Linked DNA regions of Homo sapiens. The main gene of each other region encodes a partner of the protein of the gene in region 2 in a complex. Each region holds a gene or a part of one and is shown on either strand. Other genes may lie near its edges. The genes, in order: REV1, POLD3 and POLD2.

Region 1 (10,755 bases), on a different chromosome or scaffold from region 2:
GGCATGGTGGCACATGCCTGTAGTGCAGGCTACTCGAGCGCCTGAGGCGGGAGGCTGGCTTGAGCCCAGGAGGTTGAGGCTGCAGTGAGCCGTGATCACACCACTGCATTCCAGCTTGGGCAACAGAGCAAGACCCTGTCTCAAAAAATGTTAAAAAAGAAAAAAATTCAATTAACCCACCTTTATCTCATGCCAAAATACAAAATCCTAAGTGAACAAGCTAATTTCAAATAGTTCCTAGAAGGTTTAAAATTTCCCTGTTCTGGGCTGGGACCAGTGGCTCACGCCTGTAATCCCAGCACTTTGGGAGGCTGAGGCGGGCGGATCACGAGGTCAGGAGACCGACACCATCCTGGATAACACGGTGAAACCCCGTCTCTACTAAAAATACAAAAAATTAGCCGGGCGTGGTGGCAGGTGCCTGCAGTCCCAGCTACTCGGGAGGCTGAGGCAGGAGAATGGCGTGAACCCAGGAGGTGGAGCTTGCAGTGAGCCAAGATGGTGCCACTGCACTCCAGTGTGGGCGACAGAGCGAGACTCCATCTCAAAAAAAAAAAAAATTACCCTGTTCTAAGCACTTTACATACATTAACTCAATTATTACTCACCATAATCCTGTGAGGTAGGTATTATTACAGTCATCCTACAGATGAGCAGAACTGAGGCACCACCAAGTTATTAACTTGCCCACAGTCTCAATCAGTAAATGGTGGGAGCCAGAGAATTCTGACCCTAGCTGTCTGATTCCAGAGCCAATATTTAAATCAACTATACTATTCATTTACTCAACAAGTTTTACTGACAGCCTACTATGTACCAGGCACAGTTCTAAGCACTGGGGATAAAGCTGTGTACAAGTCAGACAAGACCTCTGCTCGCTTGTTGAGAACAGGGCTGGCAGCAAACAAGTCTAAGGGGGGAAATAAATAAGTGGGAAAAAAAAAACAGTGTATCTTCACCTAGTAATAAATGCTATGGAGAAAAAGAGAATAAAGAATAAAAGATTATAAAGGAAGGGGCTGGTTCCTATTTTAGAATTAGAAAAGGCCTGAGGCGATGACATTTGAGCAGAAACACAAGACAAGACATGAAGAGCCTTGACCACTTAGAGGAAGGGGTGGTCCAGCTAAAAGAATAGTAAGTATAACATCCTAAGGAAGAAACACTTTGTTCAAGAACCGGCAAAATGACTATGGGACTGGGGTAGGTTGCTGAAAGTCAGTCACCTAGTAAGAGGTAACGTTAGAAGCTGGCAGCTGCCAAATCATGCTATGCCCTGATGGCGACTAAGATTCAAATGTAAGTGGTTCACAGGATGCTTTTAGAGGACACTAAGCAAGAAAGTGACAATCTGATTTACATTTTTAAAAAGATCCCTCTGGTTGTCAAGGTGAATCCCTAGGGAACAGTCAGGGAGCAAGAGAAATAAACCAGTAAAGGCACTATGGAAACACTCCAACCAAGAGATAATGGAACTTAGACTAGGATTCATGTACTGTTTATAAGTAGATGCTAACAGAAGAGCCTGCAACCTAATTGCCTCTAAAGAGCCTTTTTAATATCCCTTTTCCCGTCTCGTCTCCTGACTTGCCTTTGGAAAAAAATAAGATTATTTTTTAATGTCCATGTTAACGCTTCAGTTGGTGCTATTATAGTAAAAAAAAACTTTTCATTTTTAAATGTTCTGTTTAATATACTCTATGATTAGTAATACGCCACATATACACACCCATACATTCTTGAAAAGCAGAAAGACCCACAATGCTCTTTAGTGTAGGACTTGTTCATTTATTTGGAGACGAGAGGTACCTGTCACCTCTTCTGATTACCTTTCCTCTCACGCTTTGTCTCTAGCACATCCTGGCTCATTCTAGATTGTGAACTGCAATAAACAGGTATACCAAAGGGAATATGTATTTACTGAGCACCTCCTGAGTACCATGGTGTCACTAGATGTCTCACGTTTAAGAACTGATTTAATCCTCAGCTACCCAAGGTGGGAAATGGTATCTTCATTCTACAAACGAGAAAAAATCAGAGATACTAGTAACTTAACTTGTCCAGTCACCAGCTAACAATTTGTAGGGCCAGAAATCTAACCTCCATGTAACTGTGAACTTCCTGTCTTTCCACTACAGCAGCTATCAAAGAAAGTGCTTTCAAATATATATTATATGTAGTCACTGCAACTTCTTATGAATAATGACCAGTTTGTTGCTGGTGAGGACAACGTTTCCTTAATGCTCTTATGTAGAATCAGAGTTTTGAAGTTGCGAGTGGGAAGTTGGAAATGTAGTGATCTTATATATTCAAGCACATTATTTTTTAAAAATTATGTTCTACTTGAGACCTCATAGAAATTAATTTTAAAAGAGCAATTCCCATCTTTACAAAAAAAATTAAATATGTACGGTTTACCGTAAAATAGCGGTTAAGGTTCTACAACAAAAGATAGGAGTTTGGTACAGACTCTACCCTCAAAAGGTCCTACACAGTAAGAGAAGACAGGGCTAAAAAGATAAACGCAACACAGGAAAAGGCGCAAATAGCCTAAGAATTGAATGGAAGAGAGCCTTGTATACTGGAGAATGATTCCTGGAAGAGGAACTTTAGGTGAGCTCTTAAGTGTCCAGTACAGGAAGGCAGGGAACAATACGCAGCACTGGTCCCTGCACGGGCAAACCCAAGAATATGTGTGAAAGGTTGGTGGACAGATAGATGGTTCCCACAGGCTGATTTGCTACATACAGAACTCCATAGAAAGAACCAAGGTTATGGTTGGTCCTACCCTACCTAAACAGGAAATGGCTTATTCTCGGAGACTAAAGTGCCAAGTCCGGAAAGACCAGACAGATACACAGAATTACAGACTGTTACATAAAGTCCTTAATAGTTACAAGCCCTTGTTGTGCTATGTGCTAGTCTGCATTATTTTCACCTAAATGAAACCATTTCTACTTAGTACATGGCGTGAGAAGACGTGGAGATAAAGAGAATTAGCAGACGTATATTATCTGCAATTTATCTTACGGAGGAGTACATTAAGGAGTGTTATGTGAGATTATTTCTTTACAAACTGAGAATAGGTAGGAAGAGCAGCGAAACACAGCGCGGCTCGGTGCGCCCAGAGCGGCGTCACTGTAACAGTACAGAAGTGGGCAAGGGGCTCTCGGAAGGACAGTTGGGGAACGGCGCCCAGCGTATTTAGCGAACGGACAAGCAGCAAGGAAAAACAAGGGAGCAACAACCGCCTTCGGACATTCCGACCGGTTCTGGGATGCACCGGGGACGTCGAAGGCGGGGTGCGGAAAAACGCTGTGGCTGGAGTGCGGGTGGGAGCGGCGGCTCGACCGGGTCGACATTCTACAAACGCTTGTGGAACGAACGCCCGAACGCGCGCGTGAATGAATGGCGCGGAACTGAATGGCCGGCCGAGGCGCCGGCGCAGGAGGAAGGAGTTTGCGGCGCGGTCTGACCGGGCCGGCGGGATGCGGCCGGGCGCGGAGGGAAGGGCCGCTGCGCCAGGGGTCGGCGCGGGGCGGCCCATGGGGCTGGCGGCGGCGCGGGGCCGGCCGCGCCATGACGGAAGGGAAGGGGAGGGGAGGTCACACATTACATAACCCGGCGGCTGCGAGCGTCAGGGGAAGGCGCCGTGGACAGCCCAGGCCGCGACAGGACGGCCGCGGGCCGGGGCCGGGGCGACGCACCCCTCCCCCGCGCCACCTCAGGCCGACCGCGCTCTGGCCGCTGCCGGGCGGGTCTGCGGCGCCTCCGGGCGACGCGTGTCCGATCCCGCCCCTCCCCCACCCCGCCGCCGGCCCGGGGGTCGCTCACCTTCCGCGTTGCCCCAGACCACCATGCCCGGGCCCGGCGGCCTTCTCCGGCCTTGCGGACCCCGGCCCCGCCGCCGCCAGTGCCCTCGCCAGGGACCAGGGAGGAGGGCCGGGGGAAGGCAGCCCCACCGCTGAGCAGCGCCGCGGTCCACGCTCCCCCACGCTCGCGGCAACCAACCCCGCGCGCGCTCCGCGGTGGCTCTCCGCCCCTCCCCCTCCGGTTAGCGCGCGCGCCGCAGCCACGCCCCCTAGCGTTCCGCGCGCGCTCCCCGGCCCCGCTCGCGCTCACAGCCGCGCGGCGCACGCGCTCTGCTCCCCCCGGCCCGGGGCGACCCCAGCCTCGGGCGTAGCACCGCGGCGCCCGGCGTCGGCCTCCGTGTTCCTCCCCTCCCCGGCCCCGCCCTGTTGTTCTGCAGCCGCCCGCAAGGGGCAGCGCCTGGGCGGCACGTGACCGTCTCGCTAGCTGGGCGGAGGGGAGCGCAGCGCGGGCCCGCCCACGCACTGCGCCGCCTGCCCGCCCGTCCTGCTCCGGTCACCCCCGCGCTTCGTTGACCGGGTCGCGGCTCTTCGGTTGCCATTCGGACAGCGCGCCGCTCCGTGCACAGCGAGTCCCCGCGCCTGCCCCGCCTTGGGGCTCCCCAGTGGGGAAGGACACAAGTGCAGACACTGACCGGGCTTCAAACCCCGGTACTGTGTGAAGATGCGCCAGACGCCCGGGTTCCCTCCTTAAGCAATTGATTTACAGTGACATCTAGTGGAGAAAGGGACACACATGAACTGACATTTTCCTATGTCCAGAGCAACCGAGAACCACGGCCCACTCAGGTTCGCGGGAAGGAGCACTGCGCCACGGCGTTTTCGGGATTCGTGGCCTGCTCCCGCAGGGCACAGACACTATCTTCTGTCCTTTGAGTGCCCGGGCAGCATTGCGCCTGAGTATTTGTAAACGGAGGGCCGGTATCCCATCCCATGTACAGCGCTGGAGTTACCCGAGAAAGCAGTTTTCTATGAATATAAAAATAATATCCTATATTATGTATGCGTAAGTACAATTCTAATTGAGGGCCTTCTAGCAGAAAACAATCCGTCCATAAGGACCACTTTCTCCCTCTTGGCAGGGTCGCTTTGAAGACTCCACATTGTTACATAATAGTCTTTATTGTTGTAATGCACAAACATGAAGATACTTTTTTCCCACTCATTCCCTTGCCTAAAATGCTTCAGAGTTTGCAGGTACTTAGGAAACAATCAGTATTCTTTTGAAAACTGATTTGCAGAGTTGGAACTTGTTTACTAGCAACACAGAGAATACTCAAATAGCTCATTTCTTTCCCTTTCAGTTTTTTGCCATTTTATAGACTTCTATAAATGCACTTCAACTTCAGTATTCTCGTCGCTAATCCAACGAATTTAGATTGCATACTTTTCAAAGACGTCATAATTTAAAACAAATTGCGTAATTGCTTTCTTTTCTTTTCTTTTCTTTTGAGACGAAGTTTTGCTCTTTTGCCCAGGCTGGAGTGCAATGGCGCGATCTCGGCTCACTGCAACCTCCGCCTCCCAGGTTCAAGTGATTCTCCCACCTCAGCCTCCCGAGTAGCTGGGATTACAGGCATGCGCCACCATGCCCGGCTAATTTTTGTATTTTTAGTAGAGAGGGGGTTTCACCATGTTGGCCAGGCTGGTCTGGAAGTCCTGACCTCAGGTAATCCACCAGCCTTGGCATCCTAAAGTGCTAGGATTATAGGCGTGAGCCACCGTGCCTGCCCATAATTTTAACAGACTCACGACCAGTTGCCGACTGCAACACCAGGAGGTCATCTGCTGAGATGCTACAGAAAAACAGTGGTAACCCCTTGTTATGGGTGAGTTTTGTTTTGGTTGTTGTTCTTTTGCTTGTTTTAAATGTCTAAATGGCAGCATTCCTGCACGATTGTATTTCAATTTTCTTTTCCACTCTCGTATTCAAACCGAAGATCTTTTTTTTTCTTCTTTTTGTATTTTTCTCAAGGAAGAAACACAAACCTTGAGCCAACTGACCTTGGCAATACCTTTATAGAATACAGTAAAATGGTATTAACTGCAAACTAGTAGGCAGCCTCTGTAAAGGACGAAAAAAAATCACGTTGCTGTCTACATAAAATAGGATAAAAAGAGAGATGGGGAATACATAAATAAAAATGTATTTATGGACAAATTCTAGCATCCTTGTGACAGGGTCTTGCTCTGTTGTCCAGGCTGGAGTGCAGTGGCAAGATCATAGCTCAGTGTAACCTCAAACTCCTGGTCCCAAGCGAACCTCCCACCTAGGTGTTCCAAAGCACTAAGATTACAGGCATGAGCCACCTCACCCAGTCCAAAGTTTTATTTTTGTCCATTCCAGAATATTATGTTTTATGCCATCACATAATGAAGTCCTCTTGTTTCAATTTCATGCACCTACATTTATTCACCCACTTATCTATTTATATTTATTCTCATAGGATTATCTTTCTCATGTAAGGGGAGTCAGGCTGACCTTTGGGCCACTCTGGGGGTCTAGAGATGGCCGCGCTGGACCCCTACACTTGGGGGAGTGCTTTGGGGCACTGTACCTTATTTCCGTTTTCTGAACCTCATTAAAATTCATTTCATTACTGCTATCTCAAAAGGCCTATGAAAGTGCCAACCACTGACCTTTGGAGGGACAGCCATGGATAAGGACATGACTTCTGTCCTTTCACCTCTGTATCTGGCAGTAAACTTTCCTTGGAAACATTTACATCTAGTCTCTCAAATACCAAAAACAAACAGCATGAAACTACTAAAAACAGAGGTTTGTACTCAAGTCCCTTGGCTGATGTAGACACAATAACATGTGATTTACTCCATAGGAAAGAGTGTGCTGATTGTAATAAGGATTCAGTGCATTATGCTGAAAGATGAAATAATAAGGCAGAATGATCTCACACCCACAGAAACTTAGGAAATTGGCAGTGGAATTGGTTCACCAAGACTGAACTCTTTCAAACATACCATCATGTTTGACAATATGACTGAACTCTTTCAAACATACATGGACAGGTGTATATATCTGTATTTAAGCAACACTGTTCACAGATTTTAGGATGATGCAACAATCAGTTATCATGTACATTCTATATGCCTGTCCCTGTGCCAGACCCTGTAGGGTCAACAGTGGACAAAATACATTGCCTGCCCCCAAAAAGCTCCCAGTGTAGTGAAGGAGGCAAACAAACAGGTACCTGCAGTACAGGCTCAGGGCTGTTACTTGAGGGCAATCTATGAAGCACACAGGACAGGTGTCAGGGAGGCTTCCTAAAAATGTGACATCTCAGTAAGTTCTGAGAGACTAGTCCAGTTGGTTAGGAAATGCCATTTCCAGAGGGAGCGAGATGTGCAAAGGCAGAGAAAGGAGAGAGAACAGGGAACATTTTAGAAACTGCAGAGTGCAAAGTGCAGAGTGGTGTGGGCTGTGGGGAAGGGTCCATGTTGAAAAGGGAGGTTGGGGAGGCAAGTAGGGTCCAGCGCATGAAGGGCCTGGTGTTAGTCTGTTCTCACGCTGCTGTAAAGAACTTCCCTGAGTCTCAGTAATTTATAAAGGACTGAGGTTTAATTGACTCACAGTTCCACATAGCTGGGGGGGGCCTCAAGATACTTACAATCATGGCAGAAGGGGAAGCAGGCACCTTCTTCACAAGGTGGTGGGAGAGAGAAGAGAAAGCAAAGGAGGAAGACCCCCTTATAAAACCATCAGATCTAGTGAGAACTCACTCATTATCACAAGAACAGCATGGGGGAAACCGCCTCCATGTTCCAATCACCTCCGTCCTTTGACATGGTGGCGAGGGGATTACAGGTCCCTCCCTCGACATGAGGATTAAAATTTGAGATGAGATTTGGGTGGGGACACAGAGTCAAACCATATCAGGCCCCATAAAGTATCTTACTGCATTTTGACTGTATTCTGAGGGTGCAATGAACCCTTGAAAGGTTTTAGGCAATAAAGTGAGTTTTGAAAGTCTCTCTGGCTGATGCATGGAGAATGGGTTTGAGAGGTGGTCACGGGGTCTTGCAATAGTCCATGTGTACAGGTGCAGCCTAGAGAAATTAGGGGGCTAGATTTCACCAGGGTAGGGGGTCTGTAAAGCAATATAATGAAACAAGAAGAAGGCAAGGAAGTTGAGGGTGTAGGCAAGTGGGAAATCATAATGATTGATTGTGGAACTTAAGCTGAAGGGGAGAGAGCACATGCCAAGGGTAGGTGGAGGTTGCTGAAAGATGATATCAATGGGCGGGGGCTGAAGGGCAGGCATGGAGGTTGTTTGAAAGGCTCTTTGGAGTCAGGTATTAACATTACATTACATGTGGCAATGACAAGATTGCAGAGGGAGTTAGTGGCTGAGATACAAGGGAGGACAAAGTCATGGAAGAGAGAAGTTCAAGGATATGAGGGGCCAGAGTGAGAGAAAGATCATCTCTGTGTATATCGAAATCATCAAGAATAAAGACTGGAGTCGTGTTGGAGCAAGGGGCAGTGAGCCAGAATACGATCTTGATGGCTCCAGGTCAGAAGGATGAACATCATTCAGTATATTCCATTCTAATATAGTAGTGGTCTTAGGACAGAGGTTCCCAAACATTCTCTGTTCATGGCATCCTTAGTACCTCAGTAATTTTTTCCCAGCATCCCTAAGAGTTTTGCCAAAAGCTATATCTAACAGTTTTGCTTATTAAATAGGTAGGGCCAGGCCAGGTGCGGTGGCTCTAGAGTGGTAATTTTTTTTACCAAGTGGATATCCTCTTCAGCAATCTTTCACCATATGGTTTCAGCATCTATTAATGATTCTGGCCTGAATAAACCATTTTATTGATGTCTCAGTCTATTTTGATTGCTGTAAAGGAATACCTGAGTCTGGTTAATTTATAAAGAAAAGAGGAAGGCTGGGCACGGTGGCTCACGCCTGTAATCCCAGCATTTTGGGAGGCCGAGGCGTGTGGATCACTTGGGGTCAGGAGTTTGAGACCAGCCTGGCCAATATGGTGAAACCCCATCTCTACTATAAATACAAAAATTAGCTGGGCATGGTGGCAGGCGCCTGTAATCCCAGCTACTAGGGAGGCTGAGGCAGGAGAATCGCTTGAATCTGGGAGGCGGAGGTTGTAGTGAGCCAAGATCCTGCCATTGCACTCCAGCCTGGGCAATAAAAGCGAAACTCTGTCTCAAAAAGAAAAGAAAAGAAGTTTATTTGGCTTACAGGTCTGCAGGCTGTACAAGAAGCATGGCTCTGGTATCTGCTTTTGGTGAGAACCTCACTCAGGCTGCTTCCAGTCATGGCAGAAGGCAAAGGGGAACCAGCATGTCATTCCAAGAGAGGAAGCAAGGGAGAGCGAAGTCCCAGGCTCTTTTCAAAAATCAGCTCTCTCAAAAACTAATAGAGCAAGAACTCATTCATCACTTTCAGGATGGCACTAAGCCACCAAACTGTTCTTAAGGATCTGCCTGCATGACCCAAACACTTCCCACTAGGCCCCATCTCCAGCATTAGGGATCAAATTTCAACATGAGTTTTGGAGGGGACATACATCCAAACTATATCTAGTGGGTTGCAAAGGATGTTTTCCTAATTCCATAATTCCTTCTGCATTTATTAGTTGGCATTCTTCAAAGAACCTCCCATACTAACTGGGATAAACTATAATTTCTTCTTAAAAAGCAGCCAAGCAGAGTCTCAGCCTCCTGGATATCAGCTATTGTTCCTAGATGTGACTCTGATGGGCCACTTTCCTACCTCTTGCTGACTCTTAAATTGGACAACTTCCGCCTCTGACTCAGCATTTGAAATTAATTTCCCATGTGGGAATTTGCAAATAATCCTTACTAACAATTGATGTGTGCAGGACGGCCCAGCCACTGGCTTTCCCTGATAATCACAGCGATGACCCCAAGAAGTGCCCAAAGTTTGGTTATGTGTGACTAGTTTGTGTCTAAAAATGAGACCAAATGGTGCTTCTAAAAAATTCCAGTGACTTTCCCAAAGCTTTTTTGCTGGTCGTTTTCACACAATAGGTGTTTCATTTCTAAATTGTTGTATACTCTGATTTGGTCTTTCTGTGTTGCTTTGTTTATCATTTATTTTTCCCTTCAAGGTAAACGTGCTTCTTCCTATTTTGAAATCTTTCAAGTTTCACCTATATCTCTGTTTATTTGCTGAATACTCCTGAGACAATAATATCTGGGCTTGGCGCTCTGCTTGGCTGAAATGCATTCTGCCTGTTAATCATTTCTACTATCAGCACCCTTTAACTTAGCCTCCTGGATATCCGCTATTGTTCCTAGATGTGACTCTTCATTTTGGCAATTCTCTACTCTCTCCCTCTGTGAGTAATGAAATTGTCTTTTCAAAATCTAGTCTGTCTTTATCTCTTTTGTACTTTGAACCCTTCTTTTTCCCTGTGTAATAATATTTTATGTCTGTGTATATGGTTAAAAAGCCCATGATTATGAATACTGCTTGCAATATTGAGCCTCTTGATTTTTAAAATATTTTCCTGATTAAACTCATATATCATGATTAATTCTGCTTGTCTTTTATAATTCTCTTATCTTTATTCTGGCTTCTTCATATTATTTTTCTTAAAAGTCCAGAAACAAAAGTCTTCTCTATTGTTTTTTCTTTCTCTTTCTTTCCTTCTTTCTTTTTTTTTTTTTTTTTTTTTGAGATGAAGTCTTGCTCTGTGGCCTAGGCTGGAGTGAGTGGCATGATCTCGGCTCACTGCAGCCTCCACCTCCCAGGGTTCAGTGATTCTCCTGCCTCAGCCTCCCAGGTAGCTGGGATTACAGACACGCACCAACAAGCCCAGCTAATTTTTGTATTTTTAGTAGAGATGGGGTTTCATCATTGTTAGATATGAGTTCTAA
Region 2 (9,157 bases):
ATGGTGGCACATGCCTTTTAGTTTCAGCTACTTGGGAGGCTGAGGTAGGATGATCATTTGAGCCCAGGAGTTGGACTGTTGCAGTGAGTTATGATTGCACTTCTGCATTCCAGCCTGGGCAACAGAGCCAGAACTTGTCTCTAAAAAACAAACAAACAAAAAAAGAAGACAAGAAATGTGAAGGCTGACATAGCAAGTATCTACAGCAAGGGCATATGCCACAGAAATCCCTGGTGTGGTTTAGGGGCCATCCCTGTGTACTCCCATAATATCTGTCTCAGCCCTCACTACACTGTATTGCAGTGGTCTGCTTTCCTTCTCTCTCTCCTCCACTAAGGTCCTTATCCTATATGTCTTTTTAACCATGCTGCCTGCACTACCCAACAATAGTTTATTGACTGAATGAACAGAACACAGTTCTTTCTTCAGCATGCTACTTTCCTTCTTATGAACAATGAAGTATCAAGCCTGTGTATATAGTGGGCGTAACTTGTCTGTGTGATGGGGTTGGTTCTCTAAAACTAATGTAGAGTTTCTCTTTCAACTTTTTATCATAATGGAGTATTGGAGAGTGATTAGTATAGATTTAAAAGCTTTTGTTATTTTTCTGTATAACATAATTGATCCAGCTTAACATTGTATCCTCTGACCTTTTAGAGCTCAAGTGGAGAAAACAAAAGAAAACGAAAACGCGTACTAAAATCTAAAACTTACCTGGATGGGGAAGGCTGCATAGGTAAGACAAATATTTGGCTCCAAATCCAGAGATAGAATCTCTTATTACCACAGAGGCACCATAATCCCTTTTAGAACAGGTACATCTCAAACTTTAATTTACATGTGAATCATGCCCAAGTGGTACTGATGCTGTTTGTCTATGGCATACACTTTGTGTAGCAGAGTGTAAGTCAGAACACCTAGGTTCTTGTTTAGGTCATAGACTATAAAAATAAGCACTGAGATCTTGGCTAAAAGTTATGTCGTCCCTGGTGAAGAGTTTCTTATCTATGGAATATCTATTTTGCCTAAATGTGCAGTTATGAAGATTCAGGTGGCATAAATATATCCAAAAACAAGATGGAAACCACAGTATGGGCTTAAGATGTTATCATAGACATTGAGAAGCTTTTTTTTTTCTAGAATATTTGTTTTTATAAATTTGAACAGTGGAAAAGAAGCTACAGATGATTAGACTGTAATCAAGAGTCATCTTTGGTATTTGGTTCCATTTGTTCTTCAGAAGGGTATGACTCATCGAGATTGCTTCCTTTATGTTTCCTATTTGTAAGCCATGTTAGGTAAAAGCATGTGCTTGTTATGAAGGCCTAGGGAGGAATTAGAGTTCAGGCTTTGAGTCATTGGCTAGTTCTTCAGCCATGTTTTAGCTTCTTCTACCCTTTCCATAATCACACTAGACTTCTGTGGAGCTTTTAAGATTTAGCACTTGAGGTTTGATGGGATGCTCAGATCCTGGTACTGTATTTTTGTGTTTGAAAAGAGTTGTGGGTTTAGGCTCTTACCTTTGTTAGTTGGATAGCCCATGGTTGTCATTTTGCCTTTTGTGGCACCTGCTACAGCTTGGATCTTCAGAGAAGATTATTTTCCCTGTTACTGATTTTTTTTTTTCCTAGTTCAGACTTGTTTTGAAAAGATTGGCTCTGAAGAATCAACCTTTCCAGGTTCTTAAAACTAGTGAAGACATTTTGTCATCTGTGCTCCCTGTCCCACTATTCCCCACCTCCCAGTCCTCTGAAAAGGCCTCTGCCATTTTAATTGTAACATGTGATTGGGGAGTAAAATTCTTTACGTGTGGAAATTCTGTCTTTTCAGTGCCAAATTTCTTGTGAACCTGTGAATTCTGGACTTTGAATGGGTTTTTTTTTTTCTTTTTCTTCCTTTTTTTTTTTTTTTTGGCTTTCAGTCTTTTAATAGTTGCCATTTTCAAGCCTCTTGGTTTGGCCATGGGTGATAATATATGTGTTTACTGTTGAATTTCTTAATTCAACAGTGCATTTTTTAAATTTAAGAGGACAAAAACATTGGTGCCAGTTTTTTCCTCCTCTTTCTGCCCCAAAAGAAAAAAGTCAAACGTCTTTGTGAGAGTGAGAGTTCATTGGGAATTTGTGGGTAATTATTTATTGCTTTGTTTAAAATATAGTACTCGAGTTTTGGCCAGGTGTGTGATGTGGACTTTTTTGCACTCCTGTCTCCAGACAGGACTGTTAAGAGCCTTGGATGCAGCAGTGAAAACTGTGCTCACATTGCACTTTTTTTTTTTTTTTTAAAGGTTTTTGGTCCAAGCTCAACCTAATGAATCTTGGCTTTGGTTACCAACAAAGGAGTTCTGCTTTCCTCTCTCTGCTCAGACTGTTCCAAATGTACCAGCATAGGGGGCTTGCCCTGTCCTGTGCTGGATCAGATTTGTTCTATGGGTTTAGAAAGCTCATCTTTCTCTCTTTGTGACTTTGCAGCAGAAATTGGGTAGTTGGGCCCCTGAGATAAGTTTGGAGTAGACTTCTGGACAAGGGAATGGGTTTCTAAGAGCAAAGCAGTTAAGTGGAAAAGAAATCTGATGTTACCCACGAAAACCAGGTTTGTTTGCCTTTTTTTAATGGCAACCCAGAAAAGTGGCATGTTGTTCAGCTAAAATAAAGGCCCTATATTTTTAATGGAGACCTCCTTTTTTCTGGGGTTTGCGGTAGCTACAGCTTTGAATATAGAAATATTCCTTTTAGTTCTTACAGTATACTGAATATGCTGCTAAAGAAATTTTGTTGGTGCTGCCCTGACTGTTTTTTAACTCCCCTGAGCAATGTCTCACACAAAATTGGCAATGAGACAGCCATTGATTTCATTAATAAGTAATGAAATAATGAGCTAATTGATGCTGAAGTATAATGTAGACATGCTGCCATTTGAGTACAGAATATAGCTTATGAAGGAGCAAAGTCTTATACCACCAACTAGTAGAAAGTAATTTCCTTTCTGTATCTGTAGATGGCTCTTCAGACTTTTCTAATTTAAGATATTGAATAAATAACAGCTCGTAATTTTGTCCCATTAATTCAGTTACATAATGCTTTTGAAGATGCATGTGAGATGGAGGTGGTGTTCTGGGGTCTAATTGCTGAACGAATAGGTATGCCATGGGAATTCTCTAATTATCTTAGAGCAACATTTCTCAAACTTTGCCGGCTATGTGCATTACTTGAAGATCTTGCTAAAATTGAAATTCTGCATCAGTAGGCCAGGAGTGGGAACTGAGAGTGCATTCCTAATAAGCTCATGGGAGATTCTGTTGCCTCTGGTGTGCGGAGCACAATTTGAGTAGTAAGGCCTTTCAGAATACTTAATATATATCTAAAATTTATCAGTATTTTTTAGCCTCTAAGTGAACATCAAAGTGAATTCTGGGCTCTTACAAAATTAAAGACAAACTCTGGGAACTCTCTGGGAAGGGATTGTTGATTATGCAGCCTTAATGGGATTAGCTGGATAAGAGGGACGGAATGCTCCAGTGGCAATTGCACTTCAACATTTAAAACAGGGAAGGAGAGAACATTAATTCCCAGAGTGTGGTCCCCAGACCAGCAGCATCAGCATTATCTGGGAGCATGTTAGAGAAGCAAATTCTCAGGTCCCACCCCAGATCTGCTGAGTCTGAAACTTGAGAAACAGAATCTGGCAATCTATGTTTTAACAAGCCCTCCAGGTGGTTCTGATGCACAGTAAAGTTTGAGATGATATCTTAAGTAGCAGAGTAGGTATTGGGACACACATACATTTGATTCCAAAGCTTATGCCTCTAGAACAATTTGATATATTTTATTAGAAAGAATTATCAATAAAAGCTCAAGACTGTCATTGTTCTTTAATGGAAAAAAAAACCTTTTACTTTAATCATTTGAGCATTTATTATGCATATTAGGTTACGCTTTTCAGCTAAGAACAAGCTCTTTTCCTTCAATGTTTCTCTATCGCTTGCTGCAACCAGGAAGGCTGAGAAAGAATTTAGATAGCATTGGTTATACAGCTGCCACAGCTCTCTAAAATTACAGAAAGGTGGCATGCTGTTTCTTGTGGTTGGTATATGTGTTGCAGTAGTGTAGATCCTCCTCGGTTATGTGACGTCATGGCTGGAAGCCACTATCTGTGCCTGTGTCCTTTGGGGCTTGCTCATAATGACTGCTTACTGTTACAGTTCTTTTCCAAGTTTCCCTTGGGAAGGGTTCAGTGAGTTTTAATAGCAGGGGAAAAGCAATTTATGCCTTCGGCTGATAGGGAGTAAGAAAACTGGTAACTTTGTTTCTCAATTTATCACTGTCATTCCTTTAACACGTGTGTCATCCGATAGCATTTGCTTGAGATAGTTAACCTTCATGATACAGACTACTACTAAATTTTGGGTTAATTTGCAGCCATTAAGAACTAAGAACCGAACAGTTGAGTAACTAATCTTCAATTCTCTGTACCTAGGATGTGCAGAGAGTGGGTGGCATCAGGTTAGAGCTAGACAGGAGGGTCCATGGTGACCTTGGTTAAACAGAATGGAGGCAGGCAAATAGGCCAGCAGTTTAAGACCAGTAACGGGAATAGGCAGGCATTGTAGGTCAGAGAGGTGATACTTAAGAAGCCAGTCAAAGCATGGAGTTAGAAGTAAGTGTTTAAGATATAGACAATTCGGATATAGAGTTCAGGAAGTTAGCCAGCATAGGCCAGGACCCAAATAAAGGATTTAGGCAATTCACTGATAAAGGGCCATTTAAAGGCATGGGATATAGCTGTGAGGGAGAAAAGTGAACGTTAATTCTAAGCATCAAATAGAGACTGTGTGAGCTCAGGATCCCACATAGTTCCTACCTTAGGCTAGATCTGATCTCCCAGTGGGAGAAAGATTGAGTCCTAAGTAAGCATATTTGCCTTGATCAGAGTCTGAAATGATTGGGGTTAGCAAGACATCCCATTTTCTTCATAGAGTAAATGATTCAGCCCACCCATGTTCCATTTTTTTCTCATCCTACCAGTGACTGAAAAAGTCTACGAGAGTGAATCCTGCACAGATAGTGAAGAGGAGCTTAACATGAAGACATCCTCAGTACACAGACCCCCTGCCATGACTGTGAAAAAAGAACCCAGAGAGGAACGAAAGGGCCCCAAGAAAGGGACTGCTGCTCTGGGCAAAGCCAACAGACAGGTGTCCATTACTGGCTTCTTCCAGAGGAAATAAACTGCCATCTCTGGTAGATCAGAGACTTGGAGTGGTCAAGGGAGAAGACCAAGAAATGTACTCCTCACTTACTATGTAAGTTCATCTAGATCTCCACCTCACCTGTATCAAAAGACTGTTCTTTCATCCTGTGAGGTTTATACTATTTCTGGTTTTTAACCAAAAGGAAATCATCTGGAAGCAGGAGGCAAAAAGCTGTTACCTTCTAATGACATTTAAAAAGCACAGTCTTTGACCTGTCCAGGAGAAGGATTTACTCCAAAATTATACTGGAACAGTTTTCAGAATTCTCACTGAAGCCATTTAGTGGCTAACCCACTGTGCTCCACTCACCCTATGCCCTGGTCCGCATATGGCACAGGAATTATTCCTTCTTGTTCCTCTGTATTCTAAGAATTCATGTGGGTGTTTCTTATCCTTACATTCTGCTGGATACGTTTACCCCTCTTGTCTTCCTGCAGTACCACACTTCTGTCCCCTAACCTCCTGAGGCTGTTCTCTGTAAGTCTTTTAAGTTTTGGTTGGACTAAAGGCTGAAGTGAAAATCTCCCTGTAATCCTCTTCCTCCATTATGCAGTACACGGACACCTGGCTACAGACCAGGACGTGGCTTGTGTTCTGTTCCTTTCACAAAAGCTCTCTGGGACCTTCACTTGCAATTAGTGGTTAGGGAAAAGCCTCAGGCAGAACACAAATAGAAATTTAATGATGTGTTCAACTCCACCAGAAATTACCTCGAGTCAGCATTGACGATATTGGAGGAGCTGCCGTGCTGCTGATACGGGGTGTGCTTTATGCTGCTCTTTGCGGTTTGTTGATCCCCTCCTCCCCCACTCTCAATACCTAGAGAGTGAAACCCGTACAATGAGATAAAGACTAAAAAGAGAAATCCCTTCCTATATACAGTGTGCTACATTTACAAAAAATTTCTCCTTAAGAAAACAGAATATTCAAAAACAGCACTTTTCCAGGAAGTTAGTGAGGAAGATAAGGCACACATTTATTTATAAATGGATGTTGCTCCTTTGTATTTTTAGCTTCCCTATTTGCTTAAAAGTACAGGCTCCCTAAGAGAGGATGGAGAGGGAGAGACTGAATTGTTAGTAGGTCTAAACATCAAAGAAAACATTTTTATTAGTTACTTATGGAAAATCATCTATTACAATGATAACCTTCAAGTGACTTCCATTATGGCTGGACAGGCGGTGAGCTCAGTGGATTGCAGTGGTGTGCTGGTGATTTTGCACAGTGAGCTCTGCGGAAGGGGTCAGGCTCAACTGCTGATGTGTCTCACACGTAGCAGACAAGGGGTGTCTGACTGGCTTCTTTTGCCTCAAGATGGTGTATGTCGTAAGTGATGCAATCAGCTGTCTGCTTTTTAAGGTTGGGATTGTGCTGACTTTGGGATTAACATGAGCTTCTTTAGCAACCAAGCATGAACTTGATTAAGACCAGAAGTTTGGGAGATGAGTCCTGGCATTATGTCTAGGACTAAAGCAGTGGCTTTGTATAGCAAGCTGAGTAAAGGTTGACATATTCCAAAACCCTTCTTTTTAAAAGGAAAAAGGATGGAGAGAAGGATGGAAAGCCTGGACTTAAACCTTTAGAAAAAACTTCTGGAGAGAAATCCCTTTTAAACAGTTACTTTTGTCATTGCCTCTGGTCATTTGTCTAAATAGGAATGGAAAATTAAAAGAAAAGCAACAATCCAATCTTTTTTCTAAAAATTATGCTGGGGTCTCGACTAAAACTGAATTTGAATTGGAAAATTCTGGTGTTGGTTGGAGTTCCATCTTGCAAGGGATAATACAAATCCTATGATCTCTATGCCCAATATGCTGCCTCAACTCTGAGCTGTCTGCAAGGCTTAGTAAGTATTGAGTGGTGTTTTTTTTTTCTTTTTATACAATACCATGTTAACCACATGAGTTAAATAAATTTGAGAAGTTGTTTTAAAACAGTGCTTCAAACTGAGTATCTGATGAGTCTCTTATTTGATGGATGGTAACAGTGTTGCAATTATTTAAGCTCTGAATGGGAAGAAGGCTGGTTTTCAGTTGATATTGTTAAAACTGCATACCCACAGTCTGAGATGAACAAGTTATTTGCTGCCTTCATCGTTTTTTTCAGCACTGGGGAAATGTTAGTTTCAGCCAACCTCATTTTTTAGTTCATCTAGAAGAAAATCTAGCACATTGTATTAGTTTGGCTTCATCACTTGCTAGCTGTATGACTGTGGGCAAGTTTCACAGCCTCAAGTTCTTTATCAAAATAAAACTAAAATGAGTTACCAAGGGTGTCAAGACTAAAGTCAAGTGTATGTAGCATGAATTCGGTCCATGTTGGCGGTCACATACGCGCTCTACAAAATGGTGGCTTTCTTTCTGATGTCATAAGTGATGTAATCAGCTAGCAGCTTCCTGAAATGTTATCAGTTATACGACCCAGGTGGTATATTCTTCAGTCATTCTGGCTGTACATGTAGTAAAAAGGGGAAGATAGTTGTCCTATTTCATGAAAGGTTTAAAGAGAGTAGATATTTTCCTACTGAAGGAATTATAGATGCCTATATTTACTGTTCATTTATTGTGTATCTACTATGTGTCAAGCCCATGACCTGGGGACTAGAGGATATAATAGAAACCATAGAATTTGGCACTTGATCCTCACAATTTAGTGGAAGGGAAAGCCAGTAAAATGAAATGACAGTGCCATATGTGAGTGCAATGTACAGGGTCCTCCAAGAGTTCCCAGGAGGATGGGTATCAAGGCAGTCTTCCTGGAGCAAGCAGTTCTTTGAATGATGAGCAGGATTTCACCCAGCAAAGAGGAATGGAAATGACTTTCCAGGCAGAGGAGCATGGCTTTTGGGAGAGGTGGGCTGTAGAACTTGAGAATAGGGAGGAAAATGTATTCAGAAATGAAGTTGGGGCCTTGCTAAGCAGTTTGGATTTGATTTGTAGATAATGGGAGCCAACTGAAGAAATTTAAGAAGAGTAACAGAAGTTGGTTCTCAGTTAAGAGTGACAGCCAGTATTTACTTTGATTTTGTATCCATGATAGTATTTCTACCCTTGCATATGCACATTGTATCTTAAAATTCTAGCGGGATTAAAGAAAACCATCTTGGTTAAAACAAGGCCGCTTAATTCTGGCAGTCAGCATAGACAATTGCAGTGTTTCCCTTGTCTTCCCCCGTCAACATAGATTTCTGTAGCAGAATCAATTTTTTAAAGTGATTTCAAAAGCTGGTATTTCTTCTTTGACACTCTCAGTGATGAGCCTCCACTCACCTCCCTGGAAAAAACTGGGAATTCAGGGGCAGAGGGGGCTGGTAAACGAGTGAAACAGTTCTCTATTCCTTTTCTATCTTTGTTTCTTTAAGAAGACATTAGTTATTATACAGGAGAGGGCTGAAGAGAAGGGCCATATAAGGAAACTAAATAGTTTCTCCAGGACATGAGTAGAATGAGTGCCTAATAATGTATTTGCCAGAAACGTACTCTGTGTCAAGACTCGTTTTGGTAAACTTGTCTCCTTTCATTGGTTCCAGGATCTCAGTATGCTGTAATGCAGCTTTTACCACCATGAAACATTTTGGGGCTGCCTCGTTTTGTTGTGAGAAGGCAGTATTGCTTTCTGAGTTATTGCCCTGGCAGCTCTGTAAATTAGCCCATGCTGTCACCATGCCCTCTCTGAAGGGCACATTGTACCCAAATGACTGCATTTAGGATTGACTCTTACCACTCCCTGCTGCATGACACTTTTCTCCACTTGTATCTGTGTCCAGTTTTTTGTGTTCTTAGGTGCGGACCACCCACAGATTACCACCCAGGCTCTTTAGCCAGAGAAACTTGGTAAGGCTTCTGATCCAATATTTTTCCATTGGATCAGAATCCACCTTAACTCTACAATTCCCCTTCTACTTCA
Region 3 (10,066 bases), on a different chromosome or scaffold from region 2:
GGGAGGGGCTTGGCACTCTCGAGAAGAAAGGTATGGAGAATCAGTGAGGGCAGGAGGGAGGAATACAGGTGCCCACACAGCACAGATCCAGGCCTGGAGAAAACACCAAGGAGGTGACAGGACAACGCGGATGCCAGACCAGCCCCTTAGCCTAGCTGACTCCAGCACAGCCTGAGCCCCTGCTGCCTGGGAAGAACCAGGAATATTCCTCAAATCTACGCCCTAGGGAGCAGACAGAGGCGAGCAACTCAAAACAAGACAAGAAGGATGCCAGCAGCAGACAGAAATGCAACAGACTCCACATCCTCACGTATCCCACTCTTACTCTCCCCCAGGTGGCCTAAGCACTGTACATGTAACTCAGCCAACGCTGAAAATGTGCCAGGAGTAGATATTATCACCCAACTGATGCACAGAGAGGTTAAGCAATGTGTCCAAGGGCACACAACTGGGATCCAAGTGTATGCCCCTGAGCACTGGGCAGAATGACATCCCTGTAACCGATAGTAGGACATGCTTCCACCCAGGCAATGTGCTGGCACCAAGATCAAAACTGGACATAAAAGCCAACACTTGCCCCCACTCAGCCCACTGGGTCTAGGCAGGAGAACGACAACAGGCCATAGACAAGTAACTCGCCACAGTGACAAGTGCTGTGAACAAATGGTGAGCTGAGGTAGAAAACGGAGGCCCTCATTGCAAGGTGGCTTCAGGTGGCCCCTCAAAGAATATAACACTTCAGCTGACAGTGGGGCTTAGATGGGGCCATGGGAAGACAAGGGAAAGAGTGTGCCAAGTGAAGGGAAAAGCCTACAGCAGGAAGGTCTGGGCAGGTTTGGGGAACAGGTGAGTGGAAAGACCAATTTGGAGAGACAGGCTGAGCTTCAGTGAGGATGCACAGGCCACATGGAGAAGCCACATGTAGGTATTCAGGGTGGGGGCCAGCACCAACCACCAGGCCTGTGAGCGAGTGCTACTGCTGCCCCGCTGCTATCAACACATTCACTGTGGCAGCTGTTTGGTTTCCTGACCAGTCTGTGAGCACAGTGAAATCGCTATCGTCCATCACTGGGGAGCTTTTTTGACAGCTCCAATAACTGGAAGAGAAATGTGCGACCAGAGGAGGTGCTGCCGGAAAGAATCTAGAAGGTGGCATTGACATTGGGCCCAAGTAGTAACTGAGCTCTGAAAGGAGCCAAGGAAGGTGTCCCGAGGGCTGAAAGGAAAGTGAGGAAAAGCTACCGGAGCCGCAGGAGGGAGCCCCTGATTATGTGGGAGAGGAGAGGTGAACAGCACTTTGTCTCAGGTAAACAAAACAGAAAACATCCTGATATGATTTGGCTCTGTGTCCCCACCCACATCTCATCTGGAATTATAATCCACACGGTGTTGACGGAGGGACCTGGTGGGAGGTGACTGGATTGTGGGGGTGGATTTCCCCCATGCTGTTCTTGTGATGGTGAGTGAGATCAAGCCATCATGCGATCTGATGGTTTAAAAATGGTTGGCAGTTCCCCTTGCTCTCTCTCTCCTGCTATCATGTAAAAGAGCCTTGCTTTCCCTTCACCTTCTGCCATGATTGTTAAGTTTCCTGAGGCCTCCCCAGCCATGAGGAACTGTGAGTCAATTAAACCTCTTTTCTTTATAAATTACCCTATCTCAGGTAGTTTTTTATAGCAATGTGAAAATGGACTAATACATATCCCTAATGAATTTGAGGTTCTAGCTAGATTTCTAGGCCCAGGGTTCTCCTGCCTGCCTATAACGAGAATTGATCTTGGCTTGGCATGGGATGAGATGGGCTTCTCAAAGCTCCCCAGGGGATTCCAATGTGCAACTAGGGCTGAGATCCATTTTGCCTGGTGCCAAGGACAGTAAAAATGAGTAAGACCTGGTCTCACCTACTAAATCCTCAGTTTAAAAATATAATAGGAGATGGATTTGAAAATTACCTGGAAAGCCACTCTTATGTAAGTGGTAGGAATGGGGGAATGCAGCAGCACCTAAAACTCAAATAAACTCAAAGGGGGAGATGGGGGTCCCTGCTTCACCACCAAGAGTAATCCAACTGCAGGAGAGATCACCAGGGAAGAAATGGGGGCAAAGAACAAGGGTTGTGTTGGGCAGGCCACTTTATTAGGAAAGACAGAGGGCCCAAGGGACAGGAAAATTCATGGCCAGCAAATATGGGGGCCAGGAGGAGAGGCAAACAGACATGAGTGAACAGAGGGGGTCCCCTCGAGACCAGAGAGTGCATCCTCACCAGTCTTGGCTCCTGGTGCCTGGCGCCAGGCTTGCCACACTGAGGGGCTCTCTGGCTACAGCACAGGCAAATACCTGAATAATCTGCACTGAAGATAGGAAAACCATTTTCCTCTGCCAGTGAAGTAATCGCCATCACCGCCAGAACTAAGTCCTCATCTCCAACCAGCCTCTGAACTAAAACTAACTCCAAACCCACAAATTACTTAATTTAATCCTTGTTACTATCTTAAGAAGAAACTGAGGGAAAAAGAGGTTAATTTTCCCAAGGTAACAGGAAGTGGGATCAATTAGATAAACTGTTCCCATTCTCTTGCAGAACACTTCTAAGTTCAGGGATGCTGTGGGGGAAGCACCTTCCCAAACTCTCACTTACCCCAGTGCTGCTGGGCCCGGTTCTCCAGGAAGGGTCTCATTTGGATGAGGCGGGTGGCATAAATGTGGGCATACTGCCGGCTAAAGCTGCGCTCTCCTAGCCGGAAGGGTTGTGAGGAGTTGGTGTAGGTTGCCACTGGCACCCGGGCAAAGGTGGCATTGTTGGCTGATGGTGGGGACAGTAGAGTGTGGGCCCTCTGGGCAGCCTGCTCAGAAAACATGGCCACACTCCTGACTTGCTTGGTCCACACAGCTTCGCCCAGGCCAAGGAGGTTCACTGCGAAAACACAAAGGCATTCCTGCTGCCCCTGTCCATCCCCCAAAGCAGCAGCTCTCCTGGTGTCTCACTGCACCCAAAGGATACTGGGAAAAGAAGGAGAACAGCTGTAGTTGACACCAGACATTGTGTCCACTTGGAAATTTATCGTGCCTGGATACCGATGTCTCACCCTGTAGCGGTCATCCAAAAAGAGAAAAGGAAAGCTAGGAGTGTTTGTCCCATCTGGAGTTCTTCCCGAACCCTAGACTCAGGTGTCCTGTTCCATCTGGACAACTACCAGGGTCTCAATCAAGTTCAGTTTGCCCCAAATGGAATTCCCGATCTGCCTCCATCCAGCTCTCCGGCACCTGTCTCATTTCCAGACAAGAGGTCTGCCTTATTAAATAAAACTTCTGTGAAATAATAAGCCTATTATTAAATAATAATAGAACTAAACCAAAACCAAAACATAAATCAGTCACTGCTCTGTTCAAAACTCTCCAAAGTGTCCTCATTTCATTGAATAAGGCCCCAAGTCCTTACAACTGCCTATGAGATCTGCTCCACTGGTCCTCTCCCCTCCTGGTTCCCACTCCTCCACCTTGGATCCCTCCCCACAGCAAGGGGCCTCTGAACTCTTGCTTGCCCCTCTCCCGTATACTTATAGAGCTCACTTGCCCATCTCCTTCAAGTTCTTACATCTTTACTCAAATGTTACCTTGTGCCCTGCCCATCTGATTTACAACTGCAACTCTCCCCAGTACTTCAACTGTTATTGTTGTTTACAACATTTACCTTCTAACAAACTGTATATTTTAAATGTATTGTCTGCCTGCTCCAACTAGACCATAAGCTCCAGGAGAGCTGAGATTTTTGTGTCTTATGCCACTAGCCACCTAGGGCTACGAAGTACAGGAGATGTGGTGAGTCCAACTGTGATGTTTGGGTTGGACACACAATGGATTTCTAAGAATAGTACAAAGAATATCCCAATAATTTTTTCACATACAATTGAAATAATAGTTTGAATATATTTATGGATTTACTCCAATTGATTTGTTTCGTTTTACTTTTTTCGTACACCTACTAGAAAGTTAAAAAATTCCCTAGCGGCTTGCAATCTATCTCCACGGGACAGCACTGGCCTGGGACACAGGCTCCGCACACGTGTCTAACGAGTGACTCGTTAGGAGCTTTTGGCTCGAACGTGCTTGATGGCGGCAGCAGCCAGGCCGCGCTACTCGGGATGGGGCCGAGAGCGCCCTGGGGGCTGTCCCAGTCACGGCGGGTGCCCCGGCTCGGATCCACGCGGCAGCTGCGGGACGTCCGCCAAGACACCAGCCCACCGACCCAGGAGCCCGGCCTCGCGGCCTGGAACTGCCACCCCCAGCTGACCCCGTTTCCCTGGACCCCACTCACCGCGCGGCGCGCCGCATCCCGCCAATCCCCGCGCGCCTGCCCCGCCCATCGCCGCAACTCGCTAATCCCCGCGCGGCTTCCCCGCCCATCGCCTAATCTCACCAATCGCTGCCCTCCTCGCCCCGTCCGTCACCAGGCGCCTCATCCCGCCGACCACTGTGCGCCCAGTCCCTGGGACGCCCAGAGAACGCGGAGCCACACCCTCGGTTTCCTGGGCAACGCGGGGCGGGGGCTCGCAGGCCGGCGCCGCGGGTCTTTGGTTGGCGGCCGCGCGTGCAGGGGTTGGGCTGACGGGGGGTGTCGGCCTCCAGTGGGCTGACCGCGTCACCCCGTCAGGCCCTGCCCAAACCTCCCAGTGGTCGTCACCCCGCCAGACCTCCCAGTGGTCGGCCGCCAGCCTCCTTGGTGAAGCCCCCAGCGTCCCAGCTTTCCCCGCAGAGCTGCCCACTTGTAGCGATGGCGACACGCGAGGAGGATCCCAACAGAAAGAAGGCCCAAGGCCCACTAACTTGGCCGGGGAGAAGTAACTCTTCCTGAAGGGATGGCGCGGGGTCTCGGGGTTCCTCCCGTCCTGCCAGCGTCTGCGTCCGGGAAACGCATTGGCGGTTTCGGGGTCCTCCCTAGCTTGCCCACAGCTGCACACCAGCTTCCAGCCCAACACTCCCCAATCTCCAGTGTCCTCGTTGTCCCCGTTACTCATACTCGTTCTTACCACCACGTCTTTCTGAGTGCTGTCTCCCACTTTGGGAATACTTTTTTTTTTTTTTTTCCATCTCCACTAATTTATAGAATTCCTCACCCCATCAAGAGACGCTTCCCCACTAAGCTTCCCGGGCTCTTCCCGCCGCGCGCTGATTCTCCCAGGCGTCCTCTAGCGCTACTGTTCTGCTACTTCCCTGGGCCTGTTTCCTAAGTCCAGGTCTTGTCTCCACAACGAGTGGATATTAACACTCGTTAATTATTACTTAATATTTTAATTTTTGTTTTTGTTTGTTTGTTTGAGGCAGCGTCTTGCTCTGTGGCCCAGGCTGGAGTGCAGTGGTGCGATCTCGGCTCACTGCAGCCTCGAACTCCCAGGCTCCAGTGATTCTCCCGCCTCAGCCTCCCGAGTAGCTGGGACAACAGGCGCGCAGCACCACGCCTGGCTACTTTAAGTTTGTGTGTGTGTGTGTGTGTGTGCGTGTGTGTGTAGAGACAGGGTCTCCCAATGGTGCCCAGGCTAGTGTGGAACTCCTGGGCTCAAGTGATCCTCCCACCTCAGCCTCCCAAAGTGCTGGGATTACAGGCATGAGCCACCACGCCCAGCCTTATATTTTAATTTAAAATGTGATATTTTAATTATTAAACGCCTTTGCAACTGCTTTGAGGTTATGACACATTAATTCATCTGCTCCTCAAATAATCCTTTGGGTCAGACACAGTGGTTCACGCCTGTATCCCAACACTTTGGGAGGCCGAGGTGGGAGGATCGCTTAAGCCCAGGAGGCTGAGGTTGCAGTGACCTAAGATTGCACCACTGCACTTCAGCCTGAGCGACAGAGCCAGACGCTGTCTCAAAGCAAGCAAACAAACAAAAAACCTTTGAAGCATGAACTATTATTTTTCTCCCACTTTACACATGAGGAAATTGAGGCAGGGAGGGCAAGAGAGATCATGTAGCTAGTGAGTAATAGCTGGGATTCACACAGAGACAGCAGGACTCTTGCTGGTAAGGTTGTACTGTTCTGAGCCTTCACCTGAAACATTGTACATGTATTGGGCAAACAAATAATTTTACTTTTTCCTTTCCAATTCAGATGCTTTTTATTTCTTTTTTCTTACCTGATTACTCTGGCTAGAACTTCCCATACTATGTTGAGTAGAAGTGGTGAAAGTGGGCATCTTTGTCTTATTCCGGATCTTAAAGGGGAAGCTTTCAGTCTTTAGCATTAAATATGTTGCTAGCTGTGAGTTTGGGGATTTGGCCTATGGATTTTATTATTTGAGGTAGTTTCCTCCTATTCTTAGTTTGTTGAGCTTTTTCTTCTTTCAAAAGAGTGTTGAATTTTGTCAAATACTTTTTTGACATCAATTGAGATGACCGTGTGGGTTTTTTTTCTGTTAATGTGGTCTATTACATTTATTGATTTTTATGTTGAACCATTCTAGCATTTCAGGAACAAATTCCACTTGGTGGAATTACAAACCAAAGTTACAATAATACTAGCTTTTAATGTATTCTCTTTTATATAATTAATTTTACTTTAATTGCACCTGAATTTTCCTTTAGCATAGACCGTTATTTCTCCCCTCCAAGTACTAACCAGGCCCAACTCTGCTTAGCTTCTGAGATTGGACACATTCAGGGTGGTACGGCCATAGATGAGATCTTTATTCGTTTATTCGGCTTTTTTTTTTGAGACAGGGTATCACTCTGTCACCCAGGCTGGAGTGCGGTGGCACAATCTCGGCTCACTGCAACCTCCGCCTCCTGGGTTCAGGTGATTCTCTTGCCTCAGCCTCCCAAGTAGCTGGGATTACAGGCATGTGCCACCACACCTGGCTAATTTTTGTATTTTTCGTAGAGATGGGGTTCCACCATATTAGCCAGGCTGGTCTCCAACTCCTCAGGTGATCCGCCCATCTCAGCCTCCCAAAGTGCTGAGATTACAGGTGTGAGCCACTATGCCTGGCCTCTTTATTCAGCTTTGAGTCACTGTCTAGTATCCTTTCATTTCATCCTGAAAGGCTTTCTTTGGCTTTCTTTGCAGGGCAGATCTAGTGATAATGAACTCCCTCAGCTTGTGTTTATCTGGGAATGTCTTCATTTTCCCTTATTTTAAAATAATGGTTAAGTGAGATACAGATACAGGATTCTCAGCTGACAGATTTATTTTTTTCTTTTAGCACTTTGAATATATCAATCTACTGCCTTTTGGCCTCTGAGGTTTCTGATGAGATAGCTGATGATCTTTTTTTTCTTTTTCTTTTTCTTTTTTTTTTGAAACAAGGTCACACTCTGTCACCCAGGCTGGAGTGCAGTGGTGGCACGATCTTGGCTTGGTGCACCCTCCGCCTCCCAGGTTCAAGTGATTCTCCTGCTTCAGCCTCCCGAGTAGCTGGGATTACAGGCATGCACCACCATGCCTCACCAATCTTTGTATTTTTAATGGAGATGGGTTTTTGCCATGTTGGCCAGGCTGGTCTCAAACTCCTGACCTCAAGTGATCCACCTGCCTCGGCCTCCCAAAGTGCTAAGATTACAGGTGTGAGCCACCGTGCCCAGCCAAGATATCTGATAATCTTTTTGAAGATCCCTTGTATGTGATGAGTCACTTCTCTCTTGCAGCTTTTGATATTGTCTCCTTGTCTTTGGCTTTCAGCAGTTTGATTATGATGAATCTCAGTATGAGTATCTTTGAGTTTTTCCTACTTGGAGTTTGTCGAGATTTTTGAATGTTCATATTCATGTCATTCATCAAATTTGAGACATTTTCAGCCATTATTTCTCCTAATAATCTCTCTGGTCCTTCACTCTCTTTTCTTTCTGGAATTTCCACAATGGGTATTAGTCTGCTTGATGGTGTCCCGCAGGTCTCTTAGGCTCTGTTTATTTTTCTTCCATCTTTTTCCTTTCTGTTCCTCAAATTTGATAATTTCCCTGTCCAGTCTTCAAATTGCTGATTTTTTAAATAAATTTTATAATTTTTAAATTTTATATAAGTTTTTTTAAAGATAGGGTTTTTCTATGTTGCCCAGGCTGGTTTCAAACTCCTGGGCTCAAGCAATCCTCCTGCCTCAGCCTTCCAAAGTGCTGGATTATGAGCATGAGCCACTGCACCTGGCCAAGTTTGCTTACATCTGCCTTTGAAGCCCTCTAGGGAATTTATTGTATTCTTCAGCTTCATAATTTTTTGCTACCAAGAAAAAAAACTCCAAAAAGTTTTCTATCACTTTATTGGAATTTCCATTTGTTCCATCACTTTCTTGACTTTGTTCACATTTTCCTTTAGCTCTTCAAGCATCTTTAAGACAGTTGTTTTAAAGTATTTGTCTAGTAAGTCAGCCATCTGGTTTTCCTCTGGTATGGCTTCTGCTTATTTATTCTTTTCCTTTGAGTGGGTCTTAGTCTCCTATTTCTTTGTATGCCTTGTGATTTTTTTTTTGTTGTTGTTGTTGTTGTTGAAAACTGGACATTTGCATCTCATGATGTGGAAACTCTGGAAATCAGGTGCTTCCTCTTTCCCCAAGTTTGCTGGGTTTTTCATTTGTTTGTTTTTATTTTTTATTTTTAGAGCTAGTGTCTTGCTCTGTTGCTCAGGCTGGAGTGATGTGTTGAGTTTATTTTTGATTATGAGAAATGTAGCTCAGGACACCCGTGGGTATAAGACCAAGGTGGTGGCCATCCTCACATTGCAGGAAGGTGTACATTATTCAAGACAGGCTTGAAATGACACGTGGGCCCTGAATTTGGACTAACCCAGCTGCAGTTCAGTAGTGGGTGAAGGGCAGGTGTATCATTTGGTTGTGACAAATGTAAATGAAAGGCAGTTGATCTATTAGATATTGGGGATGCACAGAAATGGTGGGAGTTTGGAGGATCAGGTTTTGGGGCAGATGGGAAGTATGGTTGCTCTGGAGGGCCAAGAAACTGGAAGAACAGCAATCACCTTCTATCTGGGATTCTCTGATCTGCATACCAGTCCTAGGCTGGACCGTCCCCAGTGTTCCCACTGCTCTTGGATGATGCTCTCATGAAACAGAATCTGGGAGAGGTGGCCCAGCTGGCCAGACTTAGCTTGGGAGCCTGCTGCCTGTTATGTTGCTGAGAGTCTAGGTTCCTACACCCTGTAGGGTTGGTTACAGGAACTACCCTCCCACCAAACCCATACATAGTCCAAGAAAAGCAGTTCCCCATAGGAATCAGTGCTATTGAGAAGGGGACAGATACTGGGCTGGTAACTGATCCCTATTCACTTTCAGGCACCATCCACATAGGATGGAAGCAGACAGCTGCAGTTCCCAGAGGCCAGGCCAGGGCAGAAGCCAGAGTCTATGTACAGCCGCCTGGAGGTGGCACCGATGAGGGCAAGGTGGGCTGACTCAGAGGCTGGGACCCTGGCAGGTGCCAGGTCGACCCAAGCCAGGCAAAAACAAGGGTCTACTCTCTAGAGCCTGGGTTGAGGTGGGTGTGGGTCTTGATTGCAAGCCACAGAAACTAACTGGATACAACTCAAGCATAAAGTAGGTTTCATTACAAGGATACATCTCTGTGGGACCCAAGGACAGGAAGGTGGCCCCTTTCCTGTCTTTCCTTTGGCCTCAGGGAGGAAGCAGAGAGTTCAAGGGGGGTCCTGGGAGAAGCATGGTGGAGGTGTTGCTGACAGCAAAGGGAGCAGTGGGTTAGATAATATTCTATTTTGGAGCTGTGTGGCTCTTTGTGTCAGTGGCACATCCTAGGGGACATTCCACAGCTGGGAGGGGTGGGGCTGAAGTACCTTGGCAGATGGAAGGTTAGAGGCTGCTCCAGACACCTGGGATGGTAGAGACAGATCAACGAGTCCCAAGGAAAAAGACAGTGAAGGGTTGACAGTGTGTTGGCAGCAGGAGGGAGGGGGGCAGCTAGGAGAGGGGCCAGAAAGAGGAGGTCTTCTCTCTCCATGCACACACATGCATATGCACACACGTGCATATGCACACACACACATGCATGCACACACACCCCCACATGCACATACACACACAGACACCTGCTACATACACACCCCCAAC

The links.
Region 1: the proteins of POLD3 (region 2) and REV1 are in contact, whole or in part, in an NMR structure (PDB 2N1G), measured with the Homo sapiens proteins. Residues at the interface, in NP_006582.1 of Homo sapiens: Gly232, Asn233, Met234, Met235, Ser236, Asn237, Phe238, Phe239, Gly240, Ala242, Ala243, Met244; in NP_057400.1 of Homo sapiens: Asn1158, Leu1159, Ala1160, Gly1161, Leu1171, Leu1172, Glu1174, Trp1175, Ile1179, Met1183, Glu1184, Glu1185, Asp1186, Gln1189, Val1190.
Region 3: POLD3 (region 2) and POLD2 share a complex: the UniProt entries of both Homo sapiens proteins name them as parts of the both the DNA polymerase delta and DNA polymerase zeta complex.

Annotation. Positions count from the first base shown.
Region 1 is NC_000002.12:99,485,983-99,496,737, forward strand, and holds the start of REV1 (DNA repair protein REV1), read right to left. Parts: upstream 4,036-10,755; 5' UTR 3,835-4,035; intron 3,430-3,834; exon of another isoform or gene 1-3,429. UniProt on the Homo sapiens protein: Deoxycytidyl transferase involved in DNA repair. Transfers a dCMP residue from dCTP to the 3'-end of a DNA primer in a template-dependent reaction.
Region 2 is NC_000011.10:74,635,540-74,644,696, forward strand, and holds the end of POLD3 (DNA polymerase delta subunit 3), read left to right. Parts: intron 1-657; coding exon 658-736; intron 737-5,024; coding exon 5,025-5,227; 3' UTR 5,228-7,537; downstream 7,538-9,157. UniProt on the Homo sapiens protein: Accessory component of both the DNA polymerase delta complex and the DNA polymerase zeta complex.
Region 3 is NC_000007.14:44,119,196-44,129,261, forward strand, and holds the start of POLD2 (DNA polymerase delta subunit 2), read right to left. Parts: upstream 4,354-10,066; 5' UTR 4,316-4,353; exon of another isoform or gene 3,985-4,315; coding exon of another isoform or gene 3,984-3,984; exon of another isoform or gene 3,692-3,983; intron 3,265-3,691; exon of another isoform or gene 2,915-3,264; coding exon of another isoform or gene 2,859-2,914; coding exon 2,639-2,858; intron 1-2,638. UniProt on the Homo sapiens protein: Accessory component of both the DNA polymerase delta complex and the DNA polymerase zeta complex.